2 linked regions of the Homo sapiens genome follow. The protein of the gene in region 1 purifies or fractionates together with the protein of each later gene. This does not show direct contact. Each region holds a gene or a part of one and is shown on either strand. Other genes may lie near its edges.

The links.
Region 2: the proteins of UBL4B (region 1) and CLMN purify together in Homo sapiens (affinity purification with mass spectrometry; one large-scale study listed by BioGRID and IntAct). This does not show direct contact.

The regions. Positions count from the first base shown.
Region 1 is NC_000001.11:110,110,943-110,114,447, forward strand, and holds UBL4B (ubiquitin-like protein 4B), read left to right. Parts: upstream 1-1,500; 5' UTR 1,501-1,592; coding exon 1,593-2,117; 3' UTR 2,118-3,005; downstream 3,006-3,505.
Region 2 is NC_000014.9:95,317,809-95,321,408, forward strand, and holds the start of CLMN (calmin), read right to left. Parts: upstream 2,101-3,600; 5' UTR 1,985-2,100; coding exon 1,903-1,984; intron 1,799-1,902; exon of another isoform or gene 1,453-1,798; coding exon of another isoform or gene 1,431-1,452; intron 1-1,430.

The sequences.
Region 1 (3,505 bases):
AAATTGTGACAACATATATAAAGGGCTTGACCCAGAAGGCCTTCAGCAATGTGTTGCACTGAAAACTGCCAAATGCTGCAGAAGTTGCAGACACAGAGGAGGCCCAATCAGTGTCCTTTTTCATATTCACCTTTGAGCCGGGGGTGCCTGCTCAGGGCCTGGGCCACAAAAGGCACTGAGCAGAGATTTGTTTAGGAGGCAACATGAGGTAACAGTGAAGACAAGAGCAATTCTGCCTGCTTGCTGTAGGATCAGCCAAGCCTCCACTTTCTCCTCTGGCAGATGGAGATCATGGCAGTGCCTGCCTCATAGGTTGAGAGGATTCAATTAGGCAGGCCTGTGATGCAGATGCTGTGGGCTGTCCTGCCCCATCCCCTCAGCACTCACATTCCTGAGGGCCCGATGGCTTCCTACTTTTCTGTGGTCACAGGAGCATGCTGCTTAACACCTGTGGACCAGAAGTGCCAAGGAGGTAGCACTTCTATTAGCCAAAGACAGGAGTCAGAGCATAAAGATGCAGGTTCGGCCAGGTGCGGTGGCTCACGCCTGTAACCTCAGCACTTTGGGAGGCCAAAGCAGGCAGATTGCTTGTGTCTGGGAGTTTGAGATCAGCCTGGGCAGCATGGAGAAACCCATCTCTACTAAAAATACAAAAATTAGCCAGGCATGGTGGCGTGCAGCTGTAGCCCCAGTTACTTGGGAGGCTGACACAGGAGAATTACTTGAACCCAGGAAACGGAGGTTGCAGTGAGCCGAGATCATGCCACTGCACTCCAGCCTGGGCAACAGAGTGAGACCCTGTCTCAAAAAACAAAAAAAAAAACAAAAAAACCACACCTGGTGCAACTCAGGTGTGTTCCATGCAACCTCCCAGAACTCCCCAGCAGGATAACATACTAGTTGCCCACAATGGCAACCTGCTCATGAATGCACGTTTTGATTTCCCTCCCGTCCTCATCTCACATCCTCACTCCCCTCCTGGTGCCTCCTGGGATCACCTCCTAATTGAGTACTTGTTCTCAAATCCCTGTCTCAGTGTCTGCTGCTGGAAAGCCCAATCCAAAAGAGCGTGTAAAGTGCTTGACAGAAAGAGGACGCTTGATAAATGCTAGCCAGCTCACTAGTGTGAAAGTGTCATGAAGGCAGAAGTCATCCATCTGAATATGACTGTCTCCCCAGGTCCAGGTGCTGGCACAGAGGTGGCACCTAATACACATGTGTTGAAGAAATCAATAGACATGCTCCTCCCACCACCCTGTCCTTTCCCTCCCTCCCTTTCCCTAGTCTCACTCTCATTTCCCCCAGTCCCACATTTTCTTTCCTAGTGCTCTTTTTCTCCTCTCGTGGAGGAAGGATGCTCTGGGCCCAAATACCCCTTTGCTGTCCCAAAAGTTCCACTCTGGAAATGAGCCCCCCCGCAGCATTGTGACATCACCGTGCACTAGCCAATGGCTGCCTGCCTAAGCTGGGTCCCTGGTCTCCTGGGACTACTAGCCCTTTGTTGATAGGGAGAAGCCAACATCTCCCGCAGGACCCCCTAATCTTCAGGGCAGCTCCCAGAGCATGGATCCCTCCTGATTCCACTCAGCCCGATGTTCCTCACAGTCAAGCTGCTCCTGGGCCAGAGATGCAGTCTGAAGGTGTCAGGGCAAGAGAGTGTAGCCACGCTGAAGAGACTGGTGTCCAGGCGGCTGAAGGTGCCTGAGGAGCAGCAGCACCTGCTTTTCCGTGGCCAGCTCCTGGAGGATGACAAGCACCTCTCTGACTACTGCATTGGGCCCAATGCCTCTATCAATGTCATCATGCAGCCCTTGGAGAAGATGGCGCTAAAGGAGGCCCACCAGCCGCAGACCCAGCCCCTGTGGCACCAGCTGGGACTGGTCCTAGCTAAACACTTTGAACCACAGGATGCCAAGGCCGTGCTGCAGCTGCTAAGGCAGGAGCACGAGGAGCGCCTGCAGAAGATAAGCCTGGAGCACCTGGAGCAGCTGGCCCAGTACCTCCTGGCAGAGGAGCCTCACGTGGAGCCAGCTGGAGAGAGGGAGCTTGAGGCGAAGGCACGGCCTCAGAGCTCCTGTGACATGGAGGAGAAGGAGGAGGCAGCAGCTGATCAGTAAACGGGCCATCCTACCCATTTGCATGCTAAAATTCTCCCGGCCTCATCCTTACGTGTTCCCTGGTGACTTTTCCTACTACTTCCTGCTGATGTGGATGCGTCCACACCCCTTTTTGAACCTTCCAAGCAGCTGGAGGGTTTTTGGATCCCTGTCCCCTCTTGGGCCTGAGGTCCTCCCTCTGAAATGCAGAGTGAACCAACCCTCATCACCATGCTTCCCCTAGAAGGGTTCTGATCACCGGAGGGCAGCCCCAAAGGCCACAGTCCCCTCCTGTGCTGGCAGCTTTGCCCACACATACCCAGCAGCTCCCCAGGCTGAAAGCAGCCCTGGCCCAGGGTCTCCATGGTTCTAGGCAGACCCTCTTTCTCCTTCGGGACAGAAAGACAATGTGAGTTCATTTTCCTCCATCCTCAGACCGTGACATCTCCCCTAGGCTCCCCAGCAGCCAAGAGGAGAGGAATGTCAGGTAGCTGCCCCTTGCCTTCTGGGTGAGGCTGCCCCTGCTGTTCTCCTGCTTGTGCTTCCAGCTTAAGGGACAGGCACAGCAGAGGTGAGAGTGGGAGGAGGGCACGTACCGGGTGCCAGCCCTGGAGCCCTCAGGGAGACAGACACAGACCAAGAATAGCAGGAAACTGAGCCTCAGGCAGAAAAAAAGTTCAGCAAAGTCATACACTCCCTGTGGCCAGCGTGAACAGAGCCATGCCCCACCCTCCCAGACTGATCAGTCAGTAGGTATCACAGCTCACATTACCTGCCCAGCGCTGCCCAAGGCTCCCTGGAAGGAAAAATGGTATCTGTCAATGAGGATCCTTGCCCTCACAGAGCACGCAGCCTAGATGCAGAGAGCTGCTATACATGTGAAAAGTAAAGTGGTGACATGAAACTAGAGTCTAGTGTGTGTGACTGAATGCACGGGGCCTCACGGGGCCCTGGGTTCAGCATAGAGGGGCCAGTCCCCTGCAGACTACGAGGAAAGCCAGGCCCTTTACTCTGTTCTTTGAGTGAGAGAGTGGCCCTTGCAGAGGCTGAGGAGTCCCCACACTCTGTGTGTGAGTGGGAGGGAGTGGGGAGCTGTGGTCCCCCATTCACTGCTGAAGCCCCTGAAATGCTGTTATTGCAAAAGTTTCAGTCCTGAGTGATGGGGATGGAGGGAAGGGGTGGAGGAGAATGTCTTGAACAAGCAGGGCCCCCTTCCCTAGGAAGCATCCTGTCCTTGGCCTGCAGGGCCCCTCATCCTCTCTTCCAGTCCGAGTCCAGCTGTGTGGCCATGGGTAACCTGCTTTTCCTGTCTGATGCTCAGGTTTCCCACCTGTTGCATGGGCATCCTTATAACAGCATCTACTTACCCCATGAGTGTTGGTGACGGTTAGAGGCAAAGACTGTCCAAC
Region 2 (3,600 bases), on another chromosome or scaffold:
CATAAAGTTTTGTTGAACTTAATAAGTGCACATTTAAACATATACATACATTTAAAAATTTATTTTTTTAATGGCAAAGCCTGTTGATGCTTAAATTGTAACTGATGTTTGCCTAAAAGTGAGGACAGTTCACTGGGAGCTGAGGGAGAGGAGCCTACTCAGTGAACTCCTACCCAACCTCCAGGACCCATCTCAAATTGTCCCTATTCTGTAAAGCCTTCTCCCACCGTTCTGGTTGTAACCTAATGTTCATATTGCGGGGCATCTCTTCACAACAATCAATCTTCTCTAAACCAGGAGCTAATCCTAGAGGAATGCAGGAACTTGTTGCACGAAGCATTGGTTAGTATGTGCTTATTAAACACTCAATGGTTGCCTAAGACAGACAGGTACACACACTCACACCCTCACAGTCCAGCAGAAGACACTAATGCCCACCCCCAAACAGGATGTCAGTTCTTCTCAGGCAACAGGATCCAGGCACTTGGCTTATTATCAAAAGAGATCACTTTCAACATCCCAGCCCAAGCCTCCTCCTTTAACACAAATCACAGCCAGAAGAGATCAGAGCGGCCCAGAGCAAACTCAGTTTCCAGTGTCCACCCCAGGAGGCTCCCCAGTCCTTTTGAGGTCACCTCTGCCGGCACTGTCCTTGCCCAACCTAGGGGTGGGGCAGACCCTGGGCTCCCAGGAAACATTCAATCAGGTGTAATGTTTAAACTTGACTGCTCGGCCATCCCCCAGCGCTGGGGCTCCCTACCCTATAACAGTAAAGTCGCTGCCCTGGCTGGGGGAGGGCACCCACAGCCCCATCGCCTCTCTGCCCAGGCCTCCCAGCTCGCTCCTAGCCACTCCTAACCTTGAACCCTCTAGAAACCCAAGCCAGCAGGGGAAGCAGCTACAGAAACTTCACCTGCACAGGTCAATGTGGGTGAAGAAGGGCCGGAAGTGGTGTTCTGTCTAGTTCTGCAAAGCCCATATATGAAAAAAAAGAAGCTGGAGATACAGTTCCATGAAGAACACCTGTCTGTTGGGTGGATAGGTTGTGGAGGGGAAATTATGGGTGACTTTTTTCCTTCAAATATTTTTGTGCTTTCTAAGTTTCCACATTGAATAAATTCTTTTGAAAGAGAAACACACTTCATGTGTGGCACCGCCATACCCAGCCGCTCTCCACCACTGGAGTTTCTCTTTCACCTCTTCTCAGCTACCTCCCAGGTAGAAGCCTTGGTCCCAGTGTCCTGTGCCCAGGCAGGGTCGGAGTTGGGGGCCAGCGTGGGGGAAGGGTGGGGCTCTCGCCCTCTCCCCAGTTAGAGTCCTGATCCTGCAGGGGAGGGGCAGCTCCCTAAGCAAAGTGGCCGCTGGAGTTGGGTGCTTGCCTGACCCCACCGATCCGATCCGCACCCCTGGCCCCGCTTTCCCCAACTCACCCCCTGAAGCGCCGCCCACCATTCAATTCCCCTTGCCTCGAAGGTACTTAGGAAGTGCGCGAACTCACACACACACACACACACACACACACACACACACACAGAGTCGCACTGTCTCCTCCCCTCCCTAACCTGGGCCACCGCCCCCAAGAGCCCACGTACAAACTTCTCCAAACTCGCAGCGGTGACTGGAGGGGGTGGTGACGTCCCCCTAATGAAAATGCGAGCCCTCGCCCCACAACACACACACGTGTGGCGCCCCACCCCCTGGGCAACTGTAAACCTGGCCGCGGCTGGCCGCCCTGGGGCTTGGGGGCGGGTATCCAACCCCAGCCTCCCACCTCGAGGCAAGTGACAGGAACAACGAGCGGCCGGCGAGCGGGGGCGGCGCGGGGGAGTTGCCAAGTGTCGGAGCGGCGCCCCGGGCCCCCCGAGCGCCCAGCCATCCCGGGGCGAGCCTGGGCTGCGTTACCTTGCAGGTTCTGCACTCGGATGTCGCTAATCTGCCCGATGAGCTCCTCGCGTTGGAACCAGTCCCACTCGTGTGCAGCCATGAAGCGCGGGCGGGAGAGCCCGGGCCAGCGCGGCGCGGGCGGCGGGCGCGGAGAGCCTGGCTGGCGGGCGCGCGAGCGGCACGCACCCGGCGAGGGCGCCGCGGAGCTGGAGTCGCGGCGGGCGCGGGCGGGGCGCGGGCGCGGGCGGGGCGGGGCGGGGCGGGGAGGGGCGGGCGGCGCGGTCGGGGCCGCCCCCGCCGCGGGCTGGCGCGAGCGAGCGCGGGGCGGCGGGTGCGGGGCGGCGGGCTCGCTCTCACTCCCCCGTGCGGGGGCGGGGGCCCTGAGGAGCGAGGGGCGAGGGGCGAGGGGCGGGGCGGGGCGGGGCAGGGGCGGGAGGCTGGGTCAGGCCAGCTTGTGTTTTTTTTCTTTCCGGGGTGTTTGTAGGTTGGATTGTTTGGTTACAAACCGGCTGTGATGAGGCGCGGGTCCCGGCCCCCAGATTGTGATGTCTCAGGGGGCGGTGGGCCGGGTGACGCAACTGGGGGTGGGCCCGTGGGTCCCAGTACCTGGTCCAGGAGGCAGCGTCTCCCTCCCGTCCGGGATAAGACACCCCCTCCGCGGGTCCCCTGTCCACTCTGGAGAGGCAGCCCCCACTTGGAGGGACCAGGACCCGAGCCCTGCCCATCCCCGAATCCTGGGAGCCCTGCGTGGGGAGTGTCGAGGGCCTGGGTCGGGGGGCAAACTAGTGTGGAGGTAAAGTTGTGGGAGTCTCCAAAGTGCGGGGGGGCTGTGAAAGAAGGGCCTTCTTCGTTGGTTTAGATACTAGGAGCCTTTTCCGGTCCAGTAATGTGACTCCAGCTTCTAGGAAGGAACAAGAAGCAGGCCAACTCCTAGGAGCTGGGGTACGCTGTGGGGTCTCTGGCCACTGAGTCTCCAAGTGACCCTCTGTGGGGTCACTGGAAATTAGTGAAAATGCCAGGACAGAACTTCCTGTGGAGACTACTGAAAATGCCAGGACAGGCCTTCCGGTCCCCTCCCTCCCCACCTCCACTGTTGAACTCTAGAGAATTCCAGGATCTTATCCTGTTTGGTGCCCACCATGTGGTTTACACTCCTTAAAAGTGAGACCCTACAGTTACCGAATTTGCCCAAGGTTGAGGAATGACTTAGGAGCAGGAAGTCCCAGCCCCCTGCTCCCAGCTCAGTGCTTGGGCCCTTTCTGTGACAACTAAGGCCACAAAGAAAATGGCTTTAAATATTCAGTGTTCCAAGAGGGGGAAAAAAATGGACAGGGCTCACTGGGCATTTAAACACATGGGCCTGTGTGCATCGCTGCTCTGTTCACAGCAATGAATCCCGGAAACCCGGCTGCTCACTAATTACCCAGTAACTATGGAGGTCCCCCGAAGGACAGACCTGTGCCCTTGAGGCAGGGCCCTGAAGGAGGGTGAGTCTACCCTCCAGTCATCCATTGGGGCAGGGGCTATCGTGTGGCCCTTAAACAAGGAAAGGAGATTTCTAAAGTGGACTCCAGAAAGGAGAAAGTCAATTTGGGTTAAGGAACTGTGAATGCGGGTGGAGGGCAGCAGAGGTCTCTAAAGACTGACCTTGGAGCTGAGCCCAGAAGGAGGAGAGGAACCCCCACAGGGACAGCAGTTTGGGCGGGGAAAGGTGGG